Linked DNA regions of Homo sapiens. The protein of the gene in region 2 interacts with the protein of the main gene of each other region in a biochemical or structural test. Each region holds a gene or a part of one and is shown on either strand. Other genes may lie near its edges. The genes, in order: UNC5D and FLRT2.

What was found.
Region 1: the proteins of FLRT2 (region 2) and UNC5D form a complex in vitro, tested with the Homo sapiens proteins (one study listed by BioGRID).

Annotation. Positions count from the first base shown.
Region 1 is NC_000008.11:35,234,865-35,251,842, reverse strand, and holds the start of UNC5D (netrin receptor UNC5D isoform 1 precursor), read right to left. Parts: upstream 16,369-16,978; 5' UTR 16,059-16,368; coding exon 15,956-16,058; intron 433-15,955; exon of another isoform or gene 1-432.
Region 2 is NC_000014.9:85,528,604-85,545,581, reverse strand, and holds the start of FLRT2 (leucine-rich repeat transmembrane protein FLRT2 precursor), read right to left. Parts: upstream 15,439-16,978; 5' UTR 15,048-15,438; exon of another isoform or gene 13,799-15,047; intron 12,234-13,798; exon of another isoform or gene 11,589-12,233; intron 1-11,588. UniProt on the Homo sapiens protein: Functions in cell-cell adhesion, cell migration and axon guidance. Mediates cell-cell adhesion via its interactions with ADGRL3 and probably also other latrophilins that are expressed at the surface of adjacent cells.

The DNA.
Region 1 (16,978 bases), on a different chromosome or scaffold from region 2:
AGGCCTACATCCTTCAGACACTAAGATAAGTACAAAAATATTAGTCCTTTCATAAATATGGCCTCTTATCATTTACATCCTGAGATGTAATACCTAAGACACATTAGATGAAGGTTAAAGGAAAACAAGGAATCTCCATTTATGGGCCCCTATGTTCTTGTCCACAAGAGAAACATGGCACAATCTCTAACCTCATGTTCTTAAAATGTTCCTTCCATACTGTATAATCTTTCCATATAATCACATTAGTTTTATTAATACCTGAATTCTTTTACCCTAGCAAGAAAAGGCTAGCTCCCAAAAGGTGAAACGTTGTGTGCCAACATTCAATTTCACTCATGCAAAGGGTTTAGGATGTGATACGGTTTGTCTGTGTCCCCACCCAAATCTCACCTTGAATTGTAGTTCCCATAATCCCCACGTGTTGTGGGAGGGATCCGGTGGGAGATAATTGAATCATGGGGGTGGTTCTCACGAAAGTTCTCATGAGATCCGATGGTTTTACAAAGGGCTTTTCCCCCTTTTGCTCAGCACTTCTTGCTGCCACCATGTGAATTAGGACATGTTTTCTTCCCCTTCTGCCATAATTATAAGTTTCCTAGGGCCTACCCAGCCATGTTGAACTGTGAGTCAATTAAATATCTTTCCTTTATAAATTTCCCAGTCCCAGGTATGTTCTTATAGCAACATGAGAACAGACGAGTATAGGATGCAAGGTGGAAAGATAAGGCCTAATAGGGAGGAAGAGGTGAACCATTGGCGGTCATCTTCATACCTTATGCTTTTGTCATTATAGGAATCTTCAAATAACTTCTTGAATTCTCAAGAAAGGACAGTTTCTATGTTTATACACAATCAATGCATGCATTAAATCCATGGCTCTCATTATCCTAAGGAAATTAATTCAGAAACAGAAAACCAAATACTGCATGTTCTCATTTATAAATGGGACCTACACACTGGGTACACATGGACATAAAGATGGCGGCAAGAGACACTGGGGACTACTAGAGTGGGGGAAGGAGGGATGAAAAAGCAACTACTGGGGCCAGGAGCGGTGGTTCATGCCTGTAATCCCAACACTTTGGGAGGCCGAGGCGGGCGGATTGCCTGAGGTCAGGAGTTCAAGACCAGTCTGGTCAACATGGTGAAACCCCGTCTCTACTAAAAATAGAAAAAAATTAGCCAGACATGGTGGCATGCACCTGTAATCCCAGCTACTCGGGAGGCTGAGGCAGGAGATTTGCTTGAGCCAGGGAGGCGGAGGTTGCGGTGAGCCGAGATCGTGCCACTGCACTCCAGCCTAGGCAACAGAGCGAGACTCCATCTCAAAAAAGAAAAACAAACTAACTATTGGGTACTATGCTTACTATCTGGGTGACAGGATCAATCATTCTCAAACCTCAGCATCACACAGTATACTCAGGTAACAAGCCTGCACATGCACCCCCTGAATCTAAAATATAAGTTGAAATTATTTGGAAATAAATAAATAAATCCATGGCTCTCAGTCTTAAGTTCCCAAATTGGGAACAACCTGAGGAACTTAAAACAAACAAACAAACAAGCAAACAACAACAAACAAAACCCTGGGTCCTTCCCACTGAGATTCTGACTTAAGTGCTCTGAGATCAATGCCTTGGCATCAGCTGACTGAGAACTTCAGAATTAAACTCTTTCTCTTCAGAATTTCAATTACACACATGGGTGTTTCTATAAACAAGGGTTACATTAAACATTTGGGGCTCATCTTTTAATCTAACGTGTTCCAATAAAACCATTTAAACTTTTAAATAACTTAAAAAAACAAAAAAAAGTAAATGCCCACACACATTCAAAGCACCTATGATGTTCTCACCTAACCCTAGGTGAAAATACTACAGATGTTTTCCTTTCTGCAATTTTGAAAAAAAAAAATGGCTTTCAGTGAAGACAAGGGATTTGTAGATTCAAAGCCTGACCACTATTTCTAGCAGCAAGACACTTCACTGATAAATTGCTAAAAATAGCCAAACCTTGAATATTTTGACACCTAATCTCCAAGAATCAAGAGTTTTCAACACTTCTCCAGCAAGGTGGCTTCAACATGAATCATCATAATAGAGGCACAAGAGTTTCATAAGCTCTATACAGGGATTGCTTTTTGCACGTTATTATGGTCACAAGAGATGCAGAATTCACTTTAAAAGAAACTCAGAACTGCATGAGAAGAAGCAACCGAAGTTTTTATTTATTTATTTTATTATTATTATTATTATTATTATTATTATTATTATTATTATTTTGAGACAGAGTTTCCCTCCATTGCCCAGACTGGAGTGCAGTGGTGCAATCTCGGTTCACTGCAACCTCCACCTCCCAGGTTCAAGCGATTCTCCTGCCTCAGCCTCCCGAGTAGCCGGGATTACAGGCACCTGCCACCACACCTGGTTAATTTTTGTATTTTCAGTAGAGATGGGGTTTCGCCATGTTAGCCACTCTGATCTCGAACTCTTGACCTCAGGTGATCCATCTGCCTTGGCTTCCCAAAGTGCTGGGATTACAGGCGTGAGCCACCACGCCTGGCCACCAAAGCTTTTAAAAGTATATCCAGTCACTCTTTTTGGATGTAAATTTATGGCTTTTTGAGGATATCATGGACATATTACTGCCAACATGGAAAGCTGTCTTCAAAATATATATATTTTATGTAGATTTTATATATAATTATATATAATTTTATATATATAATATATATATTTTTTTATATATTATATATAACTTTTATATATTATATATATTTTATATATTATTTTTATATAATATATATTATATAAACATATATAATATATATTATATATGTTTATATATAATATATTATATAAAAATATATAATATATATTATATATGTTTATATATAATATATTATATATTTATATTATATATGTTTATATATAATATATTATATATTTATATAATATATTATATATTTTTATATTATTATAGAATTATATATAAAATATATTTTTAAAATATAAATATTATATATATTATATATTATATTTTTATATATTATATTTTATATATTTATATAATATATTATATATATTTATATATTTTATATATATTATATATTTTTATATATTTTATATATATTATATATTTTTATATATTTTATATATATTATATATAACATATATTTATATTTATAAATATATATATTATATATAACATATATTTATATATTATATCTATTTCATATATAACATATATTTATATATTATATCTATTTCATATATAACATATATTTATATATTATATCTATTTCATATATAACATATATTTATATATTATATCTATTTCATATATAACATATATTTATATATTATATCTATTTCATATATAACATATATTTATATATTATATCTATTTCATATATAACATATATTTATATATTATATCTATTTCATATATAACATATATTTATATATTATATCTATTTCTTATATAACATATATTTATATATTATATATTTTATATAACATATATTTATATATTATATATTTTATATAACATATATTTATATATTATATATTTTATATAACATATATTTATATATTATATATTTTATATAACATATATTTATATATTATATATTTTATATAATATATATTTATATATTATATATATTATATAATATATATTTATATATTATATATATTTTATATAATATATATTTATATATTATATTTTTTATATATAATATATATTTATATATTATATTTTTTATATATAATATATATTTATATATTATATATATTTTATATATAATATTTATTTATATATTATATATATTTTATATATAATATTTATTTATATATTATATATATTTTATATATAATATTTATTTATATATTATATATATTTTATATATAATATTTATTTATATATTATATATATTTTATATATAATATTTATTTATATATTATATATATTTTATATATAATATATATTTATATATTATATATATTTTATATATAATATATATTTATATATTATATATATTTTATATATAATATATATTTATATATTATATATATTTTATATATAATATATATTTATATATTATATATATTTTATATATAATATATATTTATATATTATATATATTTTATATATAATATATATTTATATATTATATATATTTTATATATAATATATATTTATATATTATATATATTTTATATATAATATATATTTATATATTATATATATTTTATATATTTTATACATATTTATATATTATATATATTTTATATATTTTATACATATATATATATAGAGAGAGAGAGAAGTTATTTAGGATCTCCTAGTAGATTCATACTGAACAAATTTATTATTAAGGATCCAGATGTTAAGTAACTGGAACAAAAGCTTAAGATTAAGACTTAAGGCACCCTAACTTTCACCCAAACACAAAACGAATCTATAATGCAAACCTTTTTTACAATATTATTTCTGCTACACCAAACTGCATCCATCATATCATGACCTCAGCATTCTGTAAGCCAAAGGAAAAAAAAAAAATCTCTGTAATTTCAAAGATATTTTAGAAAAATATAAACATTTAAATAAAAGGAAAACATCCTTTAACAGAAGGGTAAAATGATCAATAGTCTTTAGTCTTCTGGTATCATTCTTTTGAATTCCTTTGTGCCTCTATTGATTACTTTTGTTATTATAAGCCTGAAAGGGAAGAGGCAAGGACAACACTGAGAAAATGAAGACCTGGATTCATGGGCAGGGACGGACGGAAATGACCTCTAAAAGCCAAGCAAGCAACTTCACTCCTCAACACCTTTTTTTCTCATGTACAAATTTGGACTTTGGCCTGGAAATTTTAGGGCCCTTTTTAGCAATGTAATTTTATGATTGTTTTTCTTTGCAAATGGGAAACAGAGAGCCACAGAAACTCAGTGATCAAATCAGTGTTCAATAAAGGGCCATGACATAACACTATTCTACAAATCTAGAAAAAGTGTTGTATGCCCACAGCTCAAGCGAAGATAATTACTGAAAATGAGGACCAACTGGCTCCCTGATTCTTTAAATCTCTTAACAAAACATGACCAAGTCATTGATTTGAGACAAACTGGAGGGCCGAGTGCCATATCTTGTGAGTTTTGCTGGAGTCGTGATGCTTCGTGAAAACAATTTGATAAGACTTCAGATCTGCAAGTTTAACATGAAATTTCATATATCTGGTATCTACTAAAAAAAAGAAAGAAGTCAATCTAGCAAGAGGGGTCCCATACACCCAACTGAGCAATGGTGAGCTATGGCAGAGGGTGCCTAACTCCTCCAGGTCTTCTCCTGCCAAACCACTTCTGCATTAGTTATACATGTATGCATTAACCTACAGCCACTGATTTAAGAGAAATCAAAACAAAAAAAAATAGATTTCTCTTATAGTTGGTACATTCTTGAAAATGCTTAAGCCAAGGATTACCAACGTCATTATGAAGTCCCATTAACTTGTCCTGCAATTTCTATTTCCAGAGTATTATCCCTTTACTGAAGGTTTGATGCATATTTAAAATGCCAAGAAAAGCTTCCTGAAATGATAAAAAAATAATGTGAATAAACGGTACAGAAAACAAAGGGCGGCATCACGGAAGTTCAGAGCAGGAAGGAGCCTTAATGACAATTTAGTCACTGCTTCTCCTACAAATAAAAAGAACTAGAGAAAAAAGTGATGTTTCAAGTACACATAATTGTGAACTTTCTAGCCCCCCACATTGCTTAAATGGAAAGGAAGTTTTGACTTGAAGAGGAGAAAGGAAACAAGAAAAGACCGAGCATAGGGGGTTAGATGGGAGACACCATGGAGAGTGAAGTGATGGTTAGCAGAATTAAGCAGCTGACTTTTGAGTCAAAATTGTGATTACATCCCAAGTTTAAGTGTTACTAATGCCATTTAAATTAATGGCATATAACTTTAATGATCTAAGTTTGCTATGATGATGATATATGACATTCTACTAATATATAATACACACAGATATCCATGAATTACAGTCCTTATCACCTTGACAATTATTAATAATTGACTCTACAATGGTCTTCTCCGCTGCAGAATGTGGTAGGTTAGAGCTGTCTTTTCACATTGATATCCTGGAGACTGATGTGCATTGCAAGTTAGCTGCTAAACTTTAGAAAACATCAGATGGATATTTTTATTTTTTGCTCTAAGTTGAAAAATAAAATTAATAACAAACCTGTTATTTCTTTATAGCAAACCCCCAAACCCTTATATCCCTCCCACACACCTCACACTGACAAAACCTGTGAACATCCTGATTGCTTTTTTTAAGAGAAACAACTTTGGAAACCTCCCGATACAAGCTGCTAGTAATCACTGCAGCTTCTGGTCCCAAGACTGAGAGAGAAACAAGGGCTGTCTATTCAGAGGAAGGATAGATTCTTTCTTTTCCCAGTTCCTTTCAAAAGGCTTACAACACAGTTATAGTTCTCTGGCAAAGAACTGTATTTTGTGCTCTGTATTTTTTTTCCATCTCTCTTAAAAAAAACAGGCTAGACACTTCTTAATGACATATTGATGGAAATTGTTATTATAAGTCTAATTGTATTGTGCCACTAAACTGCTTTCGAACACAAATCAGAAGAATTTCGCTTTACAACTGGACACAGAAAGTAAAAATAAAGCACATACACTCAAAAGTAATAATAAAGACGAGGTATTTAGAAAAGTACGCAGATTGAGGAGCTAGTATACTTCTAAAAAATTGGTGTCTCTAATGGCATATTTATTTAATTAATTAATTTTTTTGGAGGGACAGGGTCTTGCTCTGTCTCCAGGAATGGAATGCAGTGATTATGGCTCACTGTCACCTCAAATTCCTGGGCTCACACAGTCCTCTGACCTCAGCCTCCCGAGTAGCTGGGACTACAGGCACGAACAACCACGTCCAGCTAACTTTAAAAAAAAAAATGTGCAGAGAAGAGAGTCTGGCTATGTTGTCCAGGCTAGTCTCAAACTCCAGGCCTCAAGCCATCCTCCCACCTCAGCCTCCCAAAGTGCTGGGATTATAGGCATGAGCCACTGTGACCAGCCTGTAATAGCATCTTTAAAAACAAAACCTGAGAAAAACTACTGTAATTTGTTATTTTACTTACTTTAATAAACTACTTTAAATCCCCTGATTTTTCAAAAGTTCTTCAGAATATTCTACACATCAATTACTCCATACTACAGCATGTTATTTTTAATATATTCATAAAGTTACTGTCCTCCAATCATTCCTGACACATTTGTGACAGCCCTTTGTCACAGACAGGGCCATTTCTGTTTATAACCATGAGAAACATACCACCCTACAGACCAAGAAGGCACAATAGGCAGTGAAATGAATTTTTATCCATTTATTTCTCTTTCTGTCTCCGATGCTTATACATCCACATCCCTGTCAAATGGACTATGAGTGAAGTGCTGTATCATCCCACCTCAGTATAATCAATCCATGTGCTAATAAAATAGAATTACATGGTAACATCATCGAAAAGGCCCTGAAACCATGAAGGCTTGGCTTCTAGTCCTAGCACTGTTTATCACTACCTGTTTAGGTTTGTTCGACTTTGGTCAAAAAATCTCTAAAGTCAACCTTAATTTCATCATCTGTTCAATATTAGGGCGGGTACAAAGATACAAAGCAATCAGAATTAAGTGAGTCCCCTAAAAATGTTAAGTTGCATGCACATGAATTAAACAGCCACGCATAATAGGACCACATGATAGATGTCACTTAATCATCTTTCTAGAAGAATCTATCTAGGAATGTAGGCCTTAGTATCTGTCTAAAACAAATGTCAAACCCTCTTACAACTATTTTATTCTTCCTCTGGTGAATAAAGTTTCCTAAGGGTTTTATCACAGTATTGATTAGATTTTTGAAATTTTATTCTAAATATTTATGCCTTAATAAAGTTCGAGTAACACACATTATTCAACATGTGCTATGGGACAAGCCCTATCAGGTACTGGGTAAGTAAAAGTGAATGAGATGGAACTTGCATCAAAGGCAGAGGGGCCTGACACAACCTCCACACCATGTTGGGATAAGGATCCAACCGCTTGGGAAACATCACTACCCCATATGGACTCACTGCTCTGTTTTTTTTAAAACAACTGTTCTCATTCTATCTCTTGCTTAACTATAGCCTCATCCCCTCATTATCCTGAACTTCGGATCATTCTTAAGCATATGTAGCTCCTGCCAAGAGAATAACGTGAAAGAGTGCTACAGAAAGTTAGAAAGGCCTCTTATTTAACAAAAATCTGACTTTGGGCAAACTGGTAAAATTCTGGGTGAGTCAATTTCCTCTTTATGACAAGAAATAAATTAGATGCAGATATAAGACCCCAATTAGCTCAAAAGGAAATCCAAGACTTTTAAAATATTGTGAAACTGGAGCAGCATCTTTCTTTATAAATGCTTTATATTGCATCAGGACGGCGCCCTCAGAATGCCTATTTGTTTTATAAGTGGCTGTTTGTCTGAGTTAAAATTGACATTTGTGTTTTCTTACTCTTCAATTGGCATTTTAAAAATATTCTTACATGGAATTCCACTTCATACTGGCTTGCAAAAGAAAAAACAATATTGAAAATAGAAAACAAGAATTACTATCATCCATGGCCCCCAGATGGTGTCATCTGGGAGTTTATCAGAAATGCAGAACCTCAGGCCCCTCCCCAGGTTTATTAAATCAGAATGTGCATTTTAACAAGATCTGCAGTAATTCAAATGCACATTAACATCTGAAAAGCACTGATTTGTGAGTTTCAAATATTACCAGCTTAGCTTCCATAACCCATGATCATTTGACTTCCCCTTCTCTCCCAGTAGGTTTATTACACTAAATTAAAATAAAGATGTTAACTACTAAATAAGTACTGTTGCTAACAGAAGACACCAATGACTTCTAAGCAACCCTAAACTACCAGATATTTATTTAGAGGCAAATCTTCTCCAATATTGAGTAAATACGTTCTCTTTAATAATAAGTTGCTGGCCAGGCACGGTGGCTCATGCTTGTAATCCTAGCACTTTGGGAGGCTGAGGTGGGCAGATCCCGAGGTCAGGAGTTTGAGACCAGCCTGACCAACGTGGTGAAACCCTGTCTGTAAAAATACAAACATTAGCCAGGCACAATGGTGCATGCCTGTAATCCCAGCTACTCGGGAGGCTGAGGCAGGAGAATTGCTTGAACCTGGGAGGCAGAGGTTGCAGTGAGCCAAGATCCTGCCACTGCACTGCAGCCTGGTGACAGAGCGAGATCCCATCTCAAAAATAAATAAATAAATAAATAAATAAAATAATAAGCTGCCAACACCTGTGAATTGTATCACACAAAGCATAGTCATCCCAGTGGTGGTGAGTCCCTTGAAGTAGTTCAGACAGTTTCTTCACTGTGGCCTCTTGCATCTTCTCCTTCCTATGCCTGCCTACCAGTTACTTACCTTCCCAAATGTCTGTGATGTCATTTCCCCTCTGACTTATCTGACTGGGAAGCCATAGCATTCAATTTAGGTAACGACAAAACATCTGTAAAGTTTCTTATTCAAATCCCACGTGGTTACAGTGATATTTTCCCACCTGTGGAAAAATACCCTTAAATACAATGTGGGCTGGAGTGGTGGGGGTACCTGTACCAATCTTTCTGGGAAGGAGGGTTCTTTTGCACCTTATGAATCCAGTAATTTGGGGGCAGAAAGTCAATATTTGCATTAAATAAAGCCAACATTGACCTCTCTTGGAAGACAGCTTTCAACTTTTTCAGTCTCCTCATTTATAAAATAAACTATCAAAAGAAAAGAAGTTGATAAATGGGTACAAATATACCACTTAATAGAATAAGACCCAGTGTCTGATAGATCAGTAGGGTGACTATAGTTTATAATAATCTATTGCATATTCCAAAATAGCTGAAAGAGAACAATTCAAATGTTTCTAGCATAAAGAAAAGATAAATATCAAAAGGTGATAGATAACCCAGTACACTGATTTGATCTTTACTAATTATATTAATGTATTAAGTTATTACTTGTACCCCAAAACTATGTACATGTACTATGCGTCAATTTTAAAAAGTGTTAAAATTTAAAAATAAAAAATAAAAGCTACTCTGAAGTTTGAAAAAAAAAAAGTGAGACTGGTCATATAAGAAGAATACTGACCTCATTTTATCCTTGTCCTGATAGAAACAATATTCAGAAATATTTTATGCTCTATAGTGGCCTGATATCATCTGAAAAATGTTACTACTTGGTTATTGTTTCTACTTTAGCCCCATAAACACAACCCTCATATTTCTATCACTGAATTCAGTGAAGTGGTGTGGGGGGAGTGGTGGTAGGGTGAGCACAAAATACTTACACAGCGAAAACATACTCCTTTCAAGAGAAAATTCCAAAACCACAGGAATTAGCAGTGGATTTCAGATAACACAATCCAAAATGAATACATTAACATCCACCTAATTCTGAAAATTATCTACGCACAGCGTGTGTATGCACACAATAAGGCCATACGATGCAATGTGGCACAAACAATTAAAAGTTCTTTTCAAAGTGGAAATGCAAAATAGAACGAATATCTATTTTCTATAAATGAATCTAGCCATCTGCCTCACAAGAGCAGCAGCAGGAGTACCCAAAACAGCAGAAACAGCAGCCTCTGGTGTTAACAATCTATTCTCAAATCTCATGCTCCACATTTCCCTGGCAAACAAGGCTAAAAATACAAGACATGCAACAAATAGTCTCGTGGGATCTGCCGTTCCATGGATGGCGTATTCAATCAGAGTCATATTTTCTGCCGAAATTCAAAATTGAAAACAAAAGCAAGCTATCATATTGGAAACTGGCACTCAGAATTTTAAGTGTGAATCCAATCCCAAAGTATAGTAAGCTGAATGGGGAGAGGGCGGTTATTTTCAAACAACACAAATCTTTCAGATTTATCTGAACATATTTATAGACTTATTTAAGGTACTCTAAATTCCTCTATGCCTCTTGATAGTAATAAAGATATCATTTGAGTACTTTTGTCATCAAAATACAAGGGTCATTTTCTTTTCTGCATAGTTCAGAAAAATTGTCTTTGTTGTGGGCCCTGGAGTCAGATGGAGTAGGTACAAATCTAGGCCCTACTATGTCCTAACTCCATGGCCTTGGGCAAGCTTTCAATCCTGTGTCCCTCTTTTCCTATCTTACCAATGGGGGTAATCACAGTACTTACCTCAAAGAGTTATCTTCAGGATTACATCAGTTAATGTTTGTAGAGCATTTAGAATTATGACTCTCACACATGAAGTAAGTACTATTATTAGGAGTATTATTTCATACTCAACTAAGTATGAAAGTATTACTAATAAGTATTACTATTATTTCATGTAAGTATTATTTCATATTCAAACAAAGTTGCAGAAATGTATTTATTATTTTAAGGAACAGGTACAATACAAAAAGAGTGCTAACAACATGATAATAGGTCTTATGCCGGCAGTAGCCATTTAGAAAGTAAAGGGGTGAGGCCAGATGTGGTGGTTCATACCTGTAATCCTAGCACTTTGGGAGGCCAAGGCAGAAGGATCACCTGAGCCCAGGAGTTCAAGACCAACCTGGGCAAAATAGTGAGAGCTAATCTCTACAAACAAACAAACACACACAAAAAATTACTGAGCCGGGTGTGATGATGCATGCCTACAGTCCCAGCTACTCAAGAGGCTGGGGTGGGAGGATCACTTGAGCCTAGGAGTTCGCCACTGCAGTGAGCTATGATGGCACCACTGCACTCCTGCCTGGATGACAGAGTGAGAACCTGTCTCAAAAAAGAAAAGAAAAGAAAAGAGAAAAGAGAAAAAGGAAAAAGGAAAGGAAAGGAAAAAAGAAAAGGAAAAGAAAGAAGGAGGGAGAAAATAAGTGTCTCTACATAGAATATGTGACTAAGAATGAAATAGAAATAGGGAACGTTTCCATTGATCTATTCTGTTGAGCAGTTAGTTCATGAAGGTATCAGAAGGAGGAGGAAGGAAGAGAAGACAATGATGTTGCTGGCCAAGTAACAGCCTGGACGAAGGGACAATCAGCATTAATGGCAAAGGTGTAATCAAGAAGGAGGGCACATCTGGGCTCCCTGTGAACACATGTGCCTTCCCATTATGAGGGCATCACACACCACCACCACCCCCTTCCTTAAGAGGATGCTATGGAATAAATCACTTGTCTTTGGGATTAGATTTTAATACATGTCTGAGTCTCTAGCCTAGATATTAAAAAAAAAAAAGCAGAAGGGAAGGATATCAAACATGCAGTATCTCCCAATAAACCAATTCCCTGATAAACACTGGCAGTGCTTTAAGTTGGGTACTGCATTTGGTAGGAAGAGGACAATAGAAACAAATTTATGAAGCATTGAGACAATAAACAGAAAAGTGATTTCCTAATCAATAAGACAGCGCAGTGTAGAACTACCTGACGGATTCAGTCATCCAGTCCTGAGAGAGCTCAGAAAGGATCCACAGCTCCAAATGTTTCCCTCCCCTGTGAGGTACTACTTAAAGAACCACAGACCCACCGATAGGTCATCTGGAGAGCAAAAAAAGTATGCAAAGGGTGACAAGTGCTATCATTATAGGGCTAGGTCAGAACAATTAATCTCTTATTAAAAACTGAGATGCTTAAAAGATCTCTTAAGAAGGTGCCACTGGGCTGCTCAAAATAAGAGCACAACCCAAGAATCAGGAAAAAATAAGTCTGGCAGGAAATAGGGGAAAAAGACTCTTTCTCATAGTCCTAGGAAGAGAAAGATTTGTGAGGAAAAGGAACAGAAGAAGTAAAGTGGGAAGGAAGAGGGTGGCCTCACAACATTCATTAAGGTAGAAATGACTATAGATTTTAAACTTTATGAGCTAGACAGATAGACGGATTTAAGTATGTGTAAATCACAAGACTATTATTATGCCTATGTAATAAATGTGTACTTCTCTTGCCATTAATGCATTACTCTAGTTATTGCAATCAAAATTTCATTGTCCAGGAAATGTTTTAAAGCAAGAAATTGTATGAAAGCTCAGCTTGTCTAAGATTATCTTCCTCTCTGCCTTTAATGACTACAGTATCTTATGTACAGTATCTAAGGCAAAAATAACAAGCAGATGAACAGCAGTCCCCCTTTTTTTCTTGAAGAACAAAAACAAATCAGTATGACAACATGATGTGGATTCAGTTAGCACTTGGCAGGTCATGAATAACTTTTAAACAACCTCCTTTTAAGTTGGAAAGTGTAAAAATATACAGTGATCATGGCACCAGAGTGCCTTCCTTACAATATGCCGACAGGCAGAGATGTTCATCTGAAGAGCTAAGTCTTACTTACAAAGGAGGGAAACAGAACATTGCTTCTTGGGCCACTACTGGGCTCTACAACATTTCCTTGTCCCAAGGGTCTTCCTCCTAGAGTATATTCAAAACCAATTTGAAATCTCCCTCTGATTTGCAGAGGTTTCTACATAAGTATGGAGGGAAAGGAAAGAAAAAAAAAAGTTGGTGCAATCATTTTGGAAACAGATAAATGATAAATATGGTAAAGAAAACGCTACTGAATTGTTAAATATTCTCATAACAGCAAGGCAAATGGCATAATTCTATACCCCGTTGGTTAGGGCAAGCAAAGTATCTTGTTTCAAATCAACAAGAAAAGTCCTAAAGAACAAAAACTATTAATTGGATAAGTAAGAACAACCTAGGGCTAATCCTAGAGAGTATGGTGAGACTAGTGGTCAGGCAAGCATGCCACACCAGTGCATCTTATCTTGGTTTTAATGAATGGACACCTTTCTGGGAAGGGAGAACTTCATAAGCACTGAAACACACCCTCTATTCTGAAAACTCCAATTACACCCAACTGTGCAAAGCCAGGTGCATGTGGCTTCACCGGTTTCACAGCCTGACTAGTGCTCATTTCTTGAGGACTCTCTGACAGTTGCTAAGGGGAATGGGCCTCATGCCCCAGAATGTAAAATATGACATGGGAAATATCAGTCAGATTTACGGCTCCACTCCATGTGTCTTGCATATTACTATGATCTGTGCAAGACATTTGTTGTAAATAAGCCTGCAGAATGTACAGCATGTTTTCCAGGAGACCTTTAAAGAACAGCTTGCAGACAAGAGGTGCTAGCCTTAGTTTCGCAGCCAGCAAAACTCCATCCAAGAGGCTGCTGGCATGTCCCCACCTCTTGTTTCGAGCTGGCTTCAAGACAACGTCACCAACCCAATTCCAAGGGTGAGTACCTGGAGTTAGTGACTGTGAGGTATTCCACACGAATAGTAAGTGGAAACTCAGACATTTAGATTAACATTTAGAAAAGACCCACTTTTCCCATAAGAGTGTATTAAAAACAACTGAGAGCTGACTTTGCAATGAGACATTTGCCGTACGTAGTAAATTAAATGGCTGAAGCTTGTGCTTCTTCCAGTACGAGAAGGAACTGTGGTTCATCATAACCCAGGGTGTACAATCACCGACGCTCATTTTTAAACCTCCCCTGCTTCTTACAAAGCCCGCTCCATTAAAAAAAAAAAAAAAAAAAAAAAAAAACTTTTCAGGAAATGAAATGCAAATGGGCAAAGAATAGGATCATACAATGGAGAGCCTCTATCAACCTCTTAAAAAGAAAATCTTTCTAGGCAGCCGGACTGCTTTTAACACGCCATAAGCTTTTATAAAAATGAGATAACATTGGTTCTTTTGTGATCGTCCTCAACCCTTTCCACCCTTTCACTCTCCAGGCTGGTCGGAGCATGTTCAGGAGACCGAACAGAGCAGGTGAAGTGGTCAGCTCAGCTCCACCTCTCCCCTGGCAAGTGTAAGGCAAATCATTTAACGGTATCACATATTCTAAGCCTGATGGATGGAACACAGAGAAGGAAAAAGGGAAAGAAGGGCGGGAAGGCAAAGCTTCCGATTTTTTTCAAAGGTAAAGCTCCGGTACTTGAGCTGTGTCTGAAACTGCCTCTGATCATCTTCAAAACAACTCCTTGGGATTTATCTTTAACTTGATGCTGCCTGTCCTCGCTCAAGGTGGAGCTGAAACCAGTTGCGAAATTTCCCTCTGCTGGAGTCCAGAGGATCCAAGAAAATGGGGTCTAGGCTTCTAAGTCGGAAAGAAGCAGAGGTTTCCCTGCGGCTCGGTGGGGCCCGCGCTTCCAAGCCAGAGTAGGCGCCGGGAAGGGAGAGGAGGCGCCTGGTGAGCAGCCTCGGGCCAAGTGCTCATCCCGGCTGGGCACTGCAGGCGCGGTTAAACTGGGATGGTGCACGCCGCTCTCCCGAGCTCCAGGGCTGGCTGGGACCTCGGGCTAAGGACGCCCGAGGGGTGCCAAGCTAGGCGCAGAGCGAAGGGACTTCAGCATGGGTGTTCCTCCCCTAAGGGAAAAGACACCCTCTCTGTTCAAGCCCACCCTACAGACACTCCCATCACCTGGCCCCTCTCCCCAGGAACTCTCCGACATCGCTATGGGCGCTAACTCATGACCAAGCTCGGCTTGAGAGGAAGTGGAGAGGAGAGGGGAGAGCGAGATTGGAGTGAAGACCGGGCTACTCCAGTCTGCAGCAATTGGGGAGGGCTTGGAAAATGGAGCAGGCAAGGAGGGTCCAGGAAAACGGTAGGGGCCCGGGTCACAGCCACCTGTAGGATTGCGGCAGATCGCAAACTTGGGTTGGAAGGCTGTGGTCCCCTCGGAGTCCTCCACTCGGCTCCCATCCGGTTGGGCTTGGAGCGCCGAGGTGCAGGGCGCAAGTTGGGAAGCCAACGCCATCGGTGCAGGTCCCGCTCCGTCAGGCTGGCGCCCCTGCGCCCTCGCCCCCAGCTGCCCGCTCCGCCCAGCGCTTACCTCGGGCAGCCGCGGTCCCTGCCGCCCAGAAGCACAGCCCCAGCCACGGGAGCCAGCGGCGCGCCCCTCCGCCGCCGCCTGCGGTGGCCGCCGCTCTCCCCATGCTCCTCGCCGCGTTCCGGAGGGCGGCTCTTCTTCACGCTCCGGGAGCCCGGGAAAGGGTCGGCGATGAGGGTCCCGAGTCGAATGGGTCTCGGGAGTCTTCAGAGAGTGACTCTGCTCCACGATCGCTTCCTAAAGCAGCGGGGCAGGGAGCTCCGAGCCGCCGCTGAATGGGCACCCCGAGAAAGGGCGCGTCCCCATAGCTTCCCACGGCGCGGCGACCGCTGCCGCCAGCGCGGATGCCGGAGTCGCCCGCAGTCCCCGCCGCGCAGTTCCCAGCCCTCGCGCCGCTGCCGGGCCCCGAACTACGGAGCGGAGGCGAGAGTCCGCATCGCTAATGAGACCCCCGCAGCCGCCCCTTCCCCTCCCCTCCGAGCGGCAGCCAATGAGCCGGGCTGGGGCGGGGCCGCGGGAGGGGCGGTGACGCGGCGGCGCTGGGCTGGGGCCCGGGAGGCGCAGGTGAGCCAGAGGCCGCTCCACGTGCCCCCGGGGCGCTTCGGGCCCCGCCTGCAGCTCCCCCCCCCGCTCGCGGAGAGAGGAAGCGGGCTGGGAGTCGGGCGGCGGGGATGCGGCCACGCCGCGGGGAGCTGAGCGGAGCCGGCTGGCCTCTTGGGGCGAACGCCGCACAGATATGTGGGCATCTCGGTTGCCTAACTCAGTCACCTGCTTCCAGGAGACCTCCGTTTTGTTCATCTACTTTGAGCCCTTCTAAAGTCCTGCCTCTCCTACTTCCACTTTTTCCCATTAGATCAGACATCACTCAGGAAAACATCCTGAGAAAAAGAAAGACTTAAAATAAATGCGTAGTGGGAAAAAATAATAATGGAGTTACTCCATTGCTGCAACTATGCTAACTTCATTCATATAAATAAAGAAGTGGGGAATAACAATCATGGGTGCATTAAGGCTTGTATAATCGAT
Region 2 (16,978 bases):
CTACTCGAAAAGACAAATATAGAAAGTTGGACCACTGGTTAGCAGCTCATCATTTATACCTACTGGACAGTGAGTAATCACCTCTGAATTTGATTTTTAAGCCATGGACAAACAAATTTTGAGTTGATTTTGGAAATTATCCAGTGTCCATCTACCCTTTTAAGACAATTAATAATAACTCTAAAGTAAAACAAGCAATCTGAGGCAACTCTCTCTACTTCAGTTTCCCTTTGTGTAAAATGGGGCTATTCACAACTTTTATCAACAGAACCTACTGTACAAGGTTTAGATGAGATAATATACATGAACTGCATAAACAGCACTCTAAATAAACCTTACGATCAATATCATTATTAATATTGTTGTTACTGTTGTTATTACTGGACTTCTGGATAAGAAGTTGGCCCTGCCAATACTCTTTGTAATTCAAGAAACCAGGAGAGCACATTGTTTCTAAACAGTCTCATAAATTAACATGAAAAGATCTGGGGTGGTGTTATAAGCCTCCAGTATTAAGGGGTAGTGTCTGATCAAAAATCATCTCATGTGTTTTTTCACGAGTTTCCCACTGGCTTGGGAAGTATTCCCAACATGCAGACAGCCCAGATGAAACCAAAGGCTAGGAAGGGGCATATCAAACTGTGCTCTATCCTCTTCTACTCTTTTCAGCCACTGAAAAGTTTTGCTGAAAAAAGGGGAGGAAGGGATTGAAGTGTGTTTAATGTGTGTTTGCAAATACACCACTTGCATGCAAGTCAACTTTGTCCATCAAATGGCAATCTACCGCGAAACTTAACAAAGTATTGTTTGAATTTTCTTTTGGCCAACAAGAAGAACCTAAAGTCCAACTTCCTGTAACCATCAACACATTAAACCATATAAATTTAGATTTATTGTAACCTTCCCAAGCTTTGTGCTGTACTCAATGTGCAAATCATGAAGACTAAAGATGGATCCTATTTTGTGGAGCCAAATTAAGGCGTTGTGATTTCTAGCCTTCTTTTCCCTTCTCTGGAGAGCCCTGGGTCCTCAGAGGCCTCTATCAGGAAATAATGGGCCTAGGATGAAATAAACAAAATAATAACAAGCAAAAAATAAAGAAGAGAGCAAATGCACAAAATTTCACAAGACCTTTGCTTTGCTCTTGTTAATTATGCCAAGACAGATACACAAAGTTAATGCTGAGTTAAATTTCTCATTCTGTGGAAAACCACATCTGTGTGAACATCTACGTAACCGATAGTTTTACTCAGTGCCAAGAAAGGTGTATCATCAAGCGAAATTATTATTCTTTAAACAGACCTATCCAGTGTGGCATATGAATTGCCTCATGTGTGGTTTGGAAAGCTTGCTGCTGATCAAGGTTGGGTTTACCAGCCAATATTTGTCTGACAAACCTGCTCAGAGTAAGGCAGAAAGGTGGTGGTTGTACTTCCCCCTCCACTGGGTAATCAATCTATGGGAATAAAAAAATACTTCTGAGGAAGCAGTCCTTCTCACTGGATTATGAAGATCTTCTTGTGTTCCAGGTCTGGTCAGTGCTATTCCATTTACTAACTCAATTACATTTTTGCAGAATGCGGTACACTGGGCAACTCTGTTAGCACCACAGAGATGAAATGAATGGGCCAAAGTTCCTAAAGTCTAATGAGCGAGATAGACATGTAAGCAGACACATTTTATAATACAATATAAACAGAGAACCAATCAAAGTTCAAACAAAACTCTGTAGAAGCCCAGAGAAAGGAGTAACCAGGAGGGAAAGTGTCATCCACGTGCCTCTTAAAGGAAGAGTTTGCCAAATGGAGAGTATGCGATAATGTTCTAGGTAAATGGTAAACAGCATGGGAAAGGCAAAGTATCAAGAGGGCCATGCCTCACCATGTTTGGCATGAGGGTACAGGGGATGGGTGCTGAACAATGAGGTCTGAGGAGTGGTTTGAGATCTAGATTGTCACGGATCTTGCGTGGCATGATAACAAGTTTTGATGGGCTTTATCCAAAGATATAGGTTTCTAAAGGAATATGATGTGATTTCTTTATTTTTTTTTTTTAGAAAATTAATTCTGGGGACACCAAAAACAGTACAATGGTTTAGGGGACACTGATGGTGGGGAGAACAGACAGGAGACTGCCGCTACCAAGAGAGAAGCCAGCCCTGATATCTAGCCTCTCTGAAGGTACTTTTCTAGCAGATGGAGTTAAATTGAGCAATATTTTCTATGTGGCAAAATACACAGAAAAACTTTCAGAAAGTCACAAGTGACTACAAGTCAGACAACTATAAAAAGCACTGATTCTCCGGTCAGAAAAAAAATTCTAAAAACTATCTAGCTCAGTGATTTCCAATAATGGGAGCTTTCAAGAACTCACATTCCCAGGTTTCATCACAGACTTAACACATCAGAATCTCCACCAAAACAGGATCCACCTTAGTCTTCATGATTTGCACACTGAGTATAGCAAAGGGCATGAGAAGGTTACAATAAACTCTAAACTTACAGGGTTAAATGTGTTGATGGTTACAGGAAGTTGGACTTTAGGTTCTTCTTCTTGGCCCAGGAATCTGTATTTCTAACCAGCTCCTTCGGTTAATTCAGGTAGATAGGTCAAGTTTAGAAAAGAGTGACTATAGGCCAACCTATCAGATTTCTCTGTGAGCAGGGACAAAGTCTTGTCTGAAAGAGTATCCCAAGTGCCTAGCACAAAATTTAGCATGGTGCCTGGCACACAGTGAGGACTCAATCTTTGTCAAATCCTCAGTTACAAGCTCGTGACTCAAACGGATGTCTGCGTGGCATTCCTTCGGGACTCAGAGATTATTAGAATCAAGTTTTAAATTCCATTGCTGTCAGCACCACTGGACTTGTTCTTTACCTATCTGAGTACAAAACTACTTTTTAAAACCATTTCCCAAAGAATTTTAATCTCTCTTACATTTCCTAAAGTAGCAAAACAAGGTCTTTTTGTTTTATGCTGGGTTGAATGTTGGTTCAGAAGCTACTTACTAAGATGTTAACAGCTTACAAAATACACTCTAGTGCCTGCTTCTCTCAGGTCCAATTTGATTAATTATATGTATATATTACATTATATATTATGTGATCTTAACAGAAAAAGCCTATGTGTTTCCTAGCTTGGAGGTCTGGGGCATGCCTAACATCTTGTTAAATATAGCTTTCCTACATCAATAAATTTACGGATTCACAGTGTTGAAAAAAACAGGGGCAAATCTCAAATGTTGAATGGAACACAGAAATTATACTATACATACATGCAATTATAATGATAAATGAAAAATAACCCCAGTACCATGTATTTTTACCAGGACATCTGAACACTGCTATTTGTTCAGAAGTATCTGCAGTAGAAACAGTAAGAAGTTCCTTTACTTAATTGAAAATTATCTTCTGAAAGAAATAGTTCCACAATGAACTCATAGCCCAAGAGTATCATTCTGATTCCAATGTACACAGCAAGGTATAATCATTCTATAAGGATAGAATAAGCCTTAAGCAAGCATAACGATAATTTACATGCTAATCTTCTACAATAAAATATTTTCATGACTCTGCCAAGAGTCATGTATAAAGTGAATTGTGTGAGGAAAGTTGTTAAAATTCATTTTGATAAAAATCTTTGTACTTTGGCAAGGACATAACCATGGCTCACTGAGCTCAGTGTCATAGTCTAGACATGGAACTCCTTGGAAGCTGCAGGCACTGGTGTCATCGGCAGAAGGACACATGGCTGTGAGGTAGAAGGCATGGGGGTGGGTATAAACCCATTAATTGCCACAAAGGCTATGCTTTCAATGAACAAATAAAGTCCAAGTTAGGACCCAGTTCATTCCCCAAACTGAGACAAGTCAGTAGAAGGTAATGGTAAGACAATGAAATCATTATCATTTTGGAGACAGAAGGACCTACAGTCGGCATTCATTAGGCCTCTCCTATGTGCCAGAACAGGTAGACATTTTAAAGAATTATCTCAATCCTAAAATTAATAGCTCTAGGAGTAGAAAGAGCTACTCCTCCATTTTCCTCCATTTTCTACTTAAGGAGACAAAGAGTAAGACTGTCCATCTCCAAATGAAGAGCTCTTTTCACTAACACTATGAGTTTCTGGCATACTTAGTGTTGACTGCACTCCCTTCAATCTTGTATAAAACTGCAATGCAATTAGGTTTTGTGTCTACCTCTCTGCTCACTAGCCTAGCTGGCCTCAAGTGGAGGGATCATGCCTTACCTACTTTTGGCCTGTCCCATCTTACTCTATGCCCAGTTCATGGATAGTGCTAAAAATCATCTCCTGAATGAATGAGCAAGCTTTCTTCATTTGGTGAAACCTCCATAAGAATATCTCCTTCATGAAGATCAGGCCAGTCAGACTTAAATATATTTTCTGATTGCATTTTGTACTTTTCTTCATTTACAGTTTCCCTAAGACCTATTTGGAAAAAGAAAATCACCAATTAAAAACTATTTGGGTTACATCACTATTTTTATCATATTAAGGACATATGTGCTAAACTGGCACTACCTAGCTTCAGGCTATAACCATACTTCCTCCCCATAGTACATAAGACTTATATTTGTTGGTGCATTTCAGAGATATAAACACGTACTAACTCCCCACATATATACCTACAGATGATTCTCATTTTATTAGTAGACCTCTTTAAAGTAGTAGCAAATATTTTCTCTCTTCAAATATTATATCATTCAACACTGCCAGTACAAAAGGTATTCAGATTAATTTTGCCGAACTATGCAAGTAATTTTCCATGTTAAAATACAGTTCTGTGGCCACATACTTTACAATGTACTGCTAAAGTACTAATCAACTTTAAAAAAAAAACATTAAAAAAGCAAGTGTCAGAACTCCGACAATAGCAAATCATAGATTGAAAAGAATGTTGTTGGATACAGACTTCATACCTCAAATCACCGAAAGAAATACTCATTTTGGCCAAGAATCGGGATCCAACCACGTATTTTATAAATATAGATTTCACCAAGGCATTTGTTTTCTGAAGCCTTCAACTATGCAACAGAAAAACAATTAAGAATTAACCTTTACAAAGGTCTAAATGTAAACAATTTAGCAAAGAGAAATAAACATGCTCACTCTTGGAACCTTTAAAATTAAGAGTCTCAGATTTGACAATAGTAAAAACAGAACTGAACAAAACATGCAGAAATACACTGTAAAGAACTGTTCCACAGGGTTTAATGACACTAACATCAAAATAAAGCCAAGCTTTGGAATACACGTTGGCTTCATAATAAATTGTCTTTCTATTCACTGTTAATGGGTTGAGGAGGTTTGCCAAACTACAAAATGTCCCTTTTGCACTAGCCTGCCTTATTTTGCAAAACAAAATTTTAAAAAATCATTGTATTTCTATTGGTGTGTGTTTGCAAAAGGTAACCTGGATAGTTAAACTGTAAATCCAGTCAAAAAGAGAAACGACCTCATTTCAGAAAACATTGATGATTTATTTTTCCAAAAAAAATCCTCAAAATTCTCTTTCCAAAATCAAAAGAAAAGTTTGACCCTTGAACTCAACTCACCCTAATTATCATTTATCCTTAAAATGGATACTTTCATCAAAATAGCGCAAACTCAGAAAAGGAGATAATCCATTATTAACTGAATGGAAGAAATGATGCAGGGGCTAGCAGCCAGTGTATTGGTTAGATGATATCTCTTGAGGCCGTAAGAGCGAAAGCTCCTGAAAGGCAGGACTCTGTCTTGGTTACCATTTTATTTATATAAAACCTAGTCTATCATAGCACAAGACAGGCATGCAGTGATAAATGTTATCAATTTGAATAATGCCTCTTTATAGGAATATAACACTGTATTGTTATCAAGGTATTTTCACACACATTAATCTTATGTGACCTCTCAACAACTCTGTTGAACTCTGTAGAGAGGAAATTAAGTCTCCAGGAGATTAAGTAATTCATACAAGGCTGAATATAGAAAGAAGCATGCTGACATGAGAATGTAGGTTTTCTTTTCCTTCCCCCAAAGCAATCTCATTTATTTCTCACTCCCCACCACAAAGTGCCAAATACGTACATCATAGGATTATACTCATTCAGAACAGGTAAACTTGTCATCTAATCTAATGCTGAAGAGTGAAATGCTATTATTTTAAATCAAAATATTTCTAGGCTTGTGATTTTTTTTTACTGTTCCAACGAAAACAAACAACTCTCATCATTTTGGGTGGTTTCATAAAGAATGGAACTTCTCAATTCTATCTGCAGAATTCTACATCTGTATGATAAAATGTAAAATGCCCAGCCTTAGTAGCCCTTAACTTCTTTCTGGCTCCAGTTACCCAATCAGAAGTGAGGCAGGTAGGACTTTCCTGTATAAATTCAGAGGCAGTTGTGAGAAATAAATGAAATCCTGGATGTGAGAACTGGAAAATGTAAGGGCCCGGAGTGATGAGGGTGGATACGAATGTGCTCTCAAAATCAATCTTAAAAAGAGATTCCTGGAACCTCTATGGCCCCTATGCACGCAAACAAACCTCTTACCTCCACTTTGTCTATTAGATATGATGAATATTATAATTCCTTGCATTATTTCCTTTGTCTAAGTACTTGAGTCCAATTTTGGGAGCAAAGTGGGAGAGGAAATCATTACAGAGGCTGTTTAGATGCTAGATTCTGATGAACGTGACATGTAGAGGCAGCTGGGGCTAAGAGTGACACCAGCATGTGAACCTATTTCAGGACTGATATGCGTCTAATGTTTTCCATTCAGCCATATGACCTCTGTTGACTTCAATGGACAGTATATTTGTGAACCAATTTTAGGAGCCACTGTTCTTTTGCTCCCTGCTGAAGGTGGTTTCAATTGTTCTGAGGCCTAATATCATCTATAAACTTTGGGACCTGATATTTTTTCAGTGGGTTGAAATCCAAAAGCCCTCAGGTTCTTAAGGGGTTCAGATGGAAGATTCTTTTATCTGTGTCTTGAAAGCTCTAATAAAGAGAACTGAAATATAACAGTATGACATGTGAACTGAAGGGAACAGAAGACCTTTTTCCAAGTTTCTTGCACATTCCCTTAAAAGTAACCTGGGAACAAAGTGGGGGGAAAAACTGCTCAGTTCTAATGAGCATCTAATGGTTAGTAGCTCCAGAGAGTTACTTTGTGAATGCTTCAAAAATGGCTGAGGTCTTTAACCATTAAACTGCCAGAAAAAGTATGTCCTTAGTAAGTATCAGCAGAATAACTGACCAGTGTTTGAGAATCATCAACGTGTCCTTTTGACTTTCCAAATTATATAAGAATATTTTCTTTGACCTTCCCTGATTAACAGATCCGGATGTAACAATGACACTGCTTTGTTTGGGTGACTCAAGGCACATGGCACTGCACACTTTTGCAGGAACACATCCTACATTAAATTAAGTTAGAGGTGGTATTTGAAAAATAAATAAATAACGGAGTTCCAATTCACTGCAAATGGTACAGGAGGCCAGTAAGTGGGAGGCTTGCAAGAGAAGGACTTCTTTTAGAAAGATGTTTTACAGAACTTTTTCTGCATCATTAACTCTTCTGGAATCCTGAACACAACATGATGAATTTCCCTGAAAAAGTAGCTACTGTTTAATTTTGAATCACTTCAAAGAGCCACAGTAGAAGGAATCAAAGAAAACCAAAAACACCAGTAGATGTGAAATTCGCTAAGGAAGAAAAAAAAAAAACAAAACATGAAGGTTCTAACAGATTTTGACCATGTACTCAAAATACCACTGATTATTTTACTAGTACAGTGTTTTACTGTTCCATGAGAATGAAATAAGTCTCTGTATTCATCAGAACACAGGATATTTTTATTACAATATTTGTGTCATAGCCTTTAAAAAAGGAACATAGTTCAAACCTTGAAAAGAATCTCTGTCTTAAAATGGTTCTTGATGTATGTGTGTGTTGTGTGTGTGTGTGTGTGTGTTTTACTATAAACAGATACGTAATTGGAGGTCCTTTATTACTGAAAGGAGTAAAAGTATACTGATACGTCAATTCGCGACATGTAGTTTTAGAAGAAAGATATAATTGCACAAAAGCAATTTGGAGAGTAGAAAAAGTAAGAAAGTTGTCTGAAGTAAGATAATGGTTGTTTAACTTTAATAATAATAATAGCTAGTCTTAAAAAAGTCTTTTGTGTAAAAATTGCCCAAGGGAAAAGAAAGAAAACCTCCTAAAAATTCCATATCCCCAAATACCACTAGATCAAAAACCATCTGGAAAATGTCAGATAATGGTATCCACCCACCTAAGAAATTCAGTAAACTTTGTCTTCAATTAGCATTTGAAATAATCGGCTAAAATTGAAATTTCTATCTGAAAACCCTCACAAGACAAACCTGGATTAGGAATCAGATTTTTAAAGTCTCCTTAAAAGGACCATCTGTTTATAAATACTCTTCTCACACTCTTTGATCTGTACCATAAGTTCACAGTAGAAGCACAGCAGAATTTAAAGACATATACACACAGCTACCATGAAGTCTAGTTACCACATACATATTTTGAGCTCGTCTCAAGTTTCCCTTGTTATGTAAGCACTTAGGAGCAATAAAATTTCACTTACATTCAGCAGCATTGTGAGTCCCAAAACAATAGTCAGCCTGACTGTACAATCCCTTCATTGGCAGTGGATAGCTCTGGTGTTTTATTTATGTTGATCACACTGTCAATGCTATATGGAATAACCATTTAGTTGCCTCTCTATTAGTCCATAACATTTTTATTACTGTAATTAAATGTCATTATCCATATTGAACTCTGTATTAGAAAAATCAAATTAGGTAAACTGAAATATCCAGAAAGAACTACAGAACTGTTGGGATTCACCCCCAGCACCCTGACGTCATCTTCAGACTTTGATGAGAAGGAAAAAAAAAAAAAACCATGAGTATTCACTTCTCACAGATAGAGGTCACTAATGGACTGAATTTGAATCACTGTAGCAGAAATCACAAAGTTATTAAAGTAATCTAGTGAAAAAGGAACTCGAATTGAAATTAAAGATATCAAAAGATGATTATCCAGAAAAGTCTGACCTGAATACAAATATTACATCACCTTGACCTTTTTTGAATCTTCTAAACAGAGAGCAAAACCAAAAGCCGCTCGGCACCCTTGCTGTTTTTTAACTTCAGACGCTTCAGATCCCAGAAGCAGGAATTCTTCCTTGTAAAGTACAAAGCTCAAGAGTCAAACTAGATCAGATGTTCACACTGGGTCTCTACAGAATAAAGCTTCTGGACTTGTACATACTTGAGCCTTTCTTAAAACCACAGCTTCAAACTGGGAAAATATAAAGTTGTCTAAATCCTAAATCAAACTCTCCAGCAGGCCAGAATATAAATGTAACGGGCATCAGAGAAGGTTCAAATTAGATCCAGCCGGTCAAAGTCAAACTCGTATATGATCACATCATCTGAAACCTAACATACAGGAAAAGCCAGGACTGCTTTGGGGACTCCAGGGTAGCCCAGCATGGTGTCATTTGGGAATCTACTTTCTTCTGCTAAAAGCATCCCCTGGAATTTCTAAAACTGCAATGAAACTACTGAAGTGTTAAGACATGGGCTTTAAAACAACAACAACAACAACAACAACAAAAAAAAAAAAAAAAAAAAAAAAAAAAACAGCATTCCTTCCATGCTAGGTTTGTAATAGGTTCTGCTACAGTACAGCTAGCCCAATTCTTTTTACAATTTCTTGTATCTCTACTGGCAGAGACATGGAATAATGTTTGAAATTTCATCTTCCAACCTCCTCCAGTCAAAGATATTTGCAACTCAACATGACAGTATGGTGTTGCACTGTCTTCAGTGATTATTAAAAAATCCCTAAATGGTTTAACCCTATCCTGTTTCGGGCTTTCAAGGAGGGGAGGAAGAGAAGTAGTATTCTCAGACGCAATAACGCTGTGGAGAAAGAAGTAACTTTTCATGGTATGCGTATTACCTACAGATTGATTCTCTGCTAATATGGTGGCTGGTGGCTTGCCCGTCATAAGTAGCTGGCCCATGTTGTTCAGTAATGAAAACAAGTGAGAATCTAGTTCTAACACTTCAAATACGGACCTAAAATTTTACATTCACACTGAACAACCTAATATATCCCTGGACAAATGCCAATCTGCATTCTATTTACCTCAAAATGTTGTTGTTTTTTTTTTTTGGGGGGGGGCTTTTCATTGGATATTTATTAAGGTCATACCGGTTAAGTCTACAGATAATATCGGTCCGATATGGAAGCTAGCCTTCAGATTAGCTTTTGGTTGTGAGAAATTAGACATAATAAATTTAGCAATAAGTCTGTGAGCGAGTGGACATGCTCCAAAGCGCCCTGAAACCCTGTGTGATTAAAGAGCCTCCCAGCTGAGTGGGGAGCAATAGCTCCCATTTAGAAGAGGCTTTGCATAGCAAATGCAGCATGTAAAGAAATCTAATCAGCACCTTGCACTCTTGAGCGAGCGTTTACACGGATTTGTGCCTTACACTTGGTTAGCTAACTGTAAGCTTTACAAGAGATTCTCTTACTAAAATTAATCAAAAGCTCTTGAAGACTGATTCCCATTCACAGGAGAAGACAGGATGAGTTTCCAGGCGAATAAATAATGATCATAATAAAGATAGCAGCAAACGCTGAGCTGCTTTGAAACTAAAAACTCAGTTGGGGGAAAGGGGGCGTCGGGGAGTTGGGGCTGGAATCTTTTTGCTTTTGGAGTGAGCTGCAGCTATTTTCTTAGCCTAAGTAAGGCTGCCGTTCGGGAAACGTGACCGTCTTCTCTCCGCTGCCGCCGCCTCAATGCGCACACGCGGCCACTCACTACCTTAGGACCACTGCGCATCAGGCCACCGAGAAAAATTCCGCCTCTCTGCAACACCACTAACCCCCTCCCCCAAACACACGCACACACACAGACACACATACGGACAGTCGTGGCAAATTCACATCACCAATAGCTAACACGTTTCACCTCACCCCTGAAAATGTAACTTCTAAAGTTCCTATTTTATGATGCCAGAAGGTGAAGGGAGGGAAGGAGGATTCCAGGGATGTCAAAAGGGGAAAGGATATTTTTTCCTCTTTGCTTGCAATATTTCACCCCTGAAATTTGCTGTCCAGCTAAACGAAGCAGGAGAGTAGGGAGTGGGCTCAAATCATTTTTTAAAAATGCTAAACGGGTGAGAGTGTGAAGGGGGGAGCGTGCGGTAAGTGAAATCCATGAACCATTTCTCTGGACTGAAGAATACTAAAAGCCCCTGGATTCACGTTCCAAATTTCCAAAGAGCTACAAGATGAGGCACCAGCTGGGGCTGAGGGTTCTCACCCACTCCTGGGGGAATTTGCCTCTCAGCACAGCTGCCCCTCTAACGTGACTAGTGATCTGCCAGCGCTCGGTGCTCATCCCCGGGATCTTGAACTTCGCCTCCCTCTTACTTTCTGCCAGACCCGCGAGGGCCAGGAAGGGCTCTGGGAGGAAGCGGGAGCGCAGCGGCGGGGCATGGAAGAAGAGGGTTGGGGGCGCGCGTTACCTGCAAAGGTTCTCGAGGTCTCCTTCCAGCCCTGGTGGTAATCCCGCTCAGCGCCGCGCCCTCCCCCAGATCCAAACTTTTGCTGGGTCCTCCGGGTGGCGGCGGCGGCGACGGCGGCGGCTGCTGGAGCCAAGCCCTGTCGCCCGCAGCGTCGGGGCGCGGGGGTGCGGAGGCCGGAGCCTCAGAGCGGCGCGCGCCTCCCCGCAGCGGGCCGGGGCCGGGGCGCCCAGCTCGCCTCGCTTGCTCTCGCCTACGTCCCCTACGGAGCTGCGGCATCGTCTTCCCCCGTCCTCCGCCACCACCGCCTCCAGGGTTCGGGCATGCCACTTTCTCTTGGCTTCGGCCGCCGCGACCCCCGCCTTCTCTCCTCCTCCGCCTCCCCCTCTCCGCTTCGCCAAGCCAACGAACCCCAAAAGAAGTACAGCGAGCGGGGAAGGCGGCAGAAAGCTGCCCCGCGGCGCCGGAGCTCCTCGGATTTGGAGGATCCCGGGACTCGGCGGGAGAGCTAGGCGGGCTCTCCTCCGACGCGTGTGTGCGGACAGCTCGGAGCCGGGCGTGCGGCGCTGCGCGGGGGCGGGCGCAGGGCTCGCTCCAAGTGCTGCGCCCGCCCGGCGTGGGTCTGGAGGCTGCTCAGACCACACTACTGCCTCAATCCGACGCGGCCGGGCTAATGTAGGCGCCGCGGCCCCCACCCCTACCCCTCCTGACACCCCCGGATATGTTTACAGTAATGAATTCGCGGGATCGCCTCCGCAGCTCCCGCGCTCCTCCTCTCCCTCCGTCCCTCGCGCTCTGGCGCGCTCCGCTCCTGGAGCCCTCTTTCTCTCCCTCCCTCATTCCCTCCCTCTCTCCCGGAGTCCCTCCTACTTTTCTGGTTTAAAGAATGCTTGGGAGGCGCGGCTGCTACCCAGTGATTTCCAAGAGGCAAAGTCAGACTTGGCTTTTAACCCTGTCCTCTCTGAAAAGAGTTGAAGAGCGCCTGGCTAACCCGGCAGATGCCACCCTGACCTTCTCTCTATCTACCCGGCACATGCCGTTCCTACCACCAGTCCTTAGGGATAATGTCACCATCTGAACCCTGAAAGGAGAATTCCCCATACCTGCTTAATGGTGTACTGCCAAGAGGGAGGATCTATTACTTAGACACTGAGAAATGATCGAAATGTGAGATTAGAGGGTAAAATACAGCAAACCTCTCAACCAAAATGGCGTTATTTCAAATGCAGGCAACCTTGGTGATGTGCCCCCCACTCCTCACCCCATCACTAGTTCCCTCATCCTGGACCACCTTAAATGACTTTAACTGGGGGAGTAATCCAAAATTTAATAGGATTAATTTAAACACCCCCACTTTCTTCCTTCAACCTGGCTGCTTCTGGCAAGAGCGTTGTTAAATTTCCCCATAGATTGCAGCGGACAAAGAAAGATTCAGCCTAAAGATTAGGAAACAGTCTTGACAGCTAAGAAGCCTGATTTCTGTACAGGCAACGTTTCCACTTCGCAGTCTCTTTCCAAAGGTTAAAGGGTAATGTAAAAAACAAACAAACAAGTAAAAAAAGCTAGGTGCACGTCTCTATTTAGGAAGGAGGAGATGTTTTTGGTTTTCTCATCTTATTTCGTGCTGCTCTTCCTGCCTCCAGTAAGTTGCTGTCATGTTGTAACAAGTCCGGTGAGGCTGAATCTGAACAGAAGAGGGAGAACGAGCCCGCGCCAAGAGCTACGCCGAGACGCGCCGTCGGTGGGGCCACGCGAGATGCAACCGGAGAGTTTAAAACTAGCCCAGGACCAACCCCCCAGGGATCCGCTCAACTCTCCCCGCAGAAGAGTTTAAGTGGGGCAGTGGCCGCCACAGGCTGAGGATGATTTCCGGACGCGCCCCAGGCGCGACCGCACTACTCGTCCTCAGTTCAAAGCCTGAGTGACTTGGCACCACTTCCCCAATTGTTTTTTATTTCCTTCGCATCCCTGTTGTGTCTACCGCTTTCACGTATTTGAGAGCCTAAATCATGTTAAGACGACTTGGAGAAACGCCCGATTTGCCTCCCAAGCCACGCAAGGATCCACCCAGACGCACGCCCGCGCGGAGACGCACGCTGGCACACGCGCTCACACACGCGAGCACACACACGCGCACACTACCCGGTTCGTGCGCGCGGGTCGCTGTTCCTGTTGCATTATGCAAAGGTGGCTGGGAAAGCGCGTTGACTTACATTTACATAGCCCATCTTCTCCCCACAGTATGTGACTAATACGTATCCCGGGGAGGAGGGAGCGCGGCTGGGGGTGCTAATCGGAAGGGAACAGACAGTGAGTGCCATCTTGCTGGGAGGTTCCAGAAGCAAAGCGCCAACGACGACAGTAGCGGTGGCCTCAGCTCCACCAGTAACTGCCGCTGGCAGGAGCACCACACGCTCTAGGAGTTTCCCGGGTATCAAGTATGGGTCCAGCCCGTCCCAGTTATCCTCTTCCCCTATGGCTTCATTCCCGTTGTCAGTACCCCGACCTCAGCTTGCAACCTTGATCTTGGGCTTGATTATAAATGACGAAAGACCGCGGCAGCCTTCAAAGTGCGGGAGCGAGCCCCGTACTGGTCAGCGCGGCGGAGGGATCTTTCCAGGAGGCCCCAAGCCCCCAAGCCTGTGGAGAGACTTGGTAACAGCTGGCAAGGCCTGCTCCAGCCACCCTCGCTGGCTCCTTGCCCCTGCATTCAGCGCCTGAGGGCGTTATTCGCCCTCTCCCTGCGTCCCACGCAAGCGGCTCAAGGAACTCACTCGATCCGGATTCCGCCTCGTATGCTCTCCAAGCCTTCGCCACCTCCGCAGGCGCTCTAGAAAGGCGTGATGGCCCCAGCTCAGTGCCCGCCAGCCCGAAGAGGACAAGCAGGGCTGGAAGGGACTTGGTTTTGGAAAAAGCCCCACCCGCCCCCACCAACTGGAAGGAAAAGGAATTAGTATCCACCGCATCTGTTTAACTGCTAATAGATCCCAGATTACGGGCAGGTAGTAGGTTGGTGTCTTTAGATACAACAGCCTGATAATAACGCTGGTGACATTAACAACAGCTTGTGGAGGGGAGAGGGTTGTTACTGGTGAAAGTTAAGAGATTCAATCTAGGGAAGTAGGAGACTGAACTCTGACAAGGTTAGGGGCACTGAGAACCCCAATTTAGCATCGATGCATCTACCAGGCAAGAAAATTTGCGTTTTGACCCAGAACTCAGTCATGATGCTCCGTAGAGGAGGTGGATTCGACCAGCAGACAGATGTCCCCAAAGTCGAGAGAGAGCTAAGCTGCCTATTTTCTCTCCAGGTGAAAGACAAAGCCTAGAGCACCCCACTTAAGATGACCACCCCCAGCTCTTTCAAAAAAAAAAAATCCCCCGAAGAGACAGCGTGGTGCCAGCGTAGCAGCAGCTCGGCCGGTTACTGGAAACTTCACCTGGCAACGCAGCCCCTTTTACCTGACGGCTGCGTCTTCTCCTTGCAATGGGCTCATCCGAATCCGACAGGGTCAGGGAGGTGGAAAGGGAAGACGCTGGCGCGGCAGCAGCGGGGATCCCGGGGCATGGTATTGTTTTAGGGGTCGCCGCCGAGGTCCCTCCTGCCCATCGTTGAGAACTGCCACCCTGATCCCAGGGCTCGGTGGACACGGCGGCGGGAGCGGAGATGCCGCCTCGCCGCTGCTGGGCACCAGGGACGGAGGACCAGAGGCGCACCTCGGAAAGGAGTAGCTCAGCGCCTTGGCGCGGAGATTTGCGGGCACTGATGATATCTCGAGCGCTCGTTCCTCCGCGGTGACAATGGATAATGCCAAACGCGCAAGTGACGGCGACAGGTTTCGAACGTACAACTAACTACAAGGTACCCAGCCTGAGACAGTATGCTGCTTTTCCCCTCCTCCTCCTCTCCCTCCTACCAGGGAGGGAACTAACTTAACCCTGTGTGCGCCTGACACTCCCTAGAGAAGCTGGGATCGACTAGGAAACCGCAGGCAGCGGCTCCCGGGGGCGAGAGCTTTGTTCACGTGCGTTTCCAGTGGGTGTGTTGCTGTCTAGGGGCACTCGCGTGGCAAGACGCCCGTGGCTGGCTTCCAGCGCCCAAGATTCAAGGAAGGGAAGGAGCCCTAGCGTTTCATCCGGACCAGACCCAGCCCTCGGAGTCTATTTTTTGCCTCCAGTTACCGGATTTATTGAAGTTGCCAGCGAAGTTGGTTTTATTCCTTTACTTCTCTGCTCTCCGCCCCCGTCCACATCCCCCAACCCTGTATTATTTCCTGTCCTAGCTGCGCTTTAAAGATTCGGAACTTTTCACTCGTTCTAGCTACAGATTTTAACTGTGTTCCGTGTGCGAGACGAATTGTGGAGGGCACCCACCCACCCATGCCAAGTGTAAATGAAACCGCAAGAAAAGCTGCCTCCCACTCACCCATCCAGTGTCCGAGTAAGCCTAATGACACACATTCACATAACTAAGAAGACACGGGAAGATAGGGGTGCGGAGGACGGAGTTTGATGTGTGAATGGGAAATGGAGAGAGGGGACAGCGCGCGCGAGAGAAACAGCGCGAGCCTGAGCCTTAGAATGGAATAAACGGGAAACACACACAAGAATGACGATGCAAAAAATGTATCTAAGTCCCAACATTGACAGCAGAGGGTCAGCTTTAAGCGCCTACATTTTGATCCGCGAAATTTCCCAGCTTTTTTGGAGGCGGTTACATAGAGAACACAGGAGCCTCTGCCTTGGCCGCCCAGATGCTTTGCATTTTGTAAACAGCTTTGACTAAGTGCTCTGGACTTCCAAGAAGTTAACTGGAGTGGAAGGCGAGTCATATTGTGGATGCGGAATGGAAGCTTAGACAAGAAAAAACTGTCAGCAGAGCGCCTCTGCTCTCACCGTCACACCCAAATGAGCCAGGACGTCGCTCAGAGCGCAAACTGAGATCCACACAGGGACATCTTCAACCGAATCTTTCTTCTGTCTCCATTCCGGACTAAGGAAAGAAAGAAAGAAATACGGAGCCTTTATAGAGTATTCAGAGGCTACACACATGGATCTTGCTGAAACGGAGTTATTTAAAAACAGAGAAAGTGTGTTTTCCCATGAGATAGATGTTATAGTTTCTCTCTGAAACATACCCAAGTCTATGGGTGTCAATAATAGCCATTTCAAATGCCTCTCTGAGCCTTGCCAGCCCCAGAAGAGGCTGTGGGAATGCTGCTTCCAGCTTCCCCTGTGCAGAACTCCGTTGTAAATCCTTCTGAGTTTCCAAGGTGGCAGCAGAGCATAGGGATAGCTCCTCAAGCTCCAGCATCAACAAGGAAGATCACATTTTAGGACAAATACTCATCTACCTGCATTTAAACATCCATTTTCGTATGTAAGTGTACATA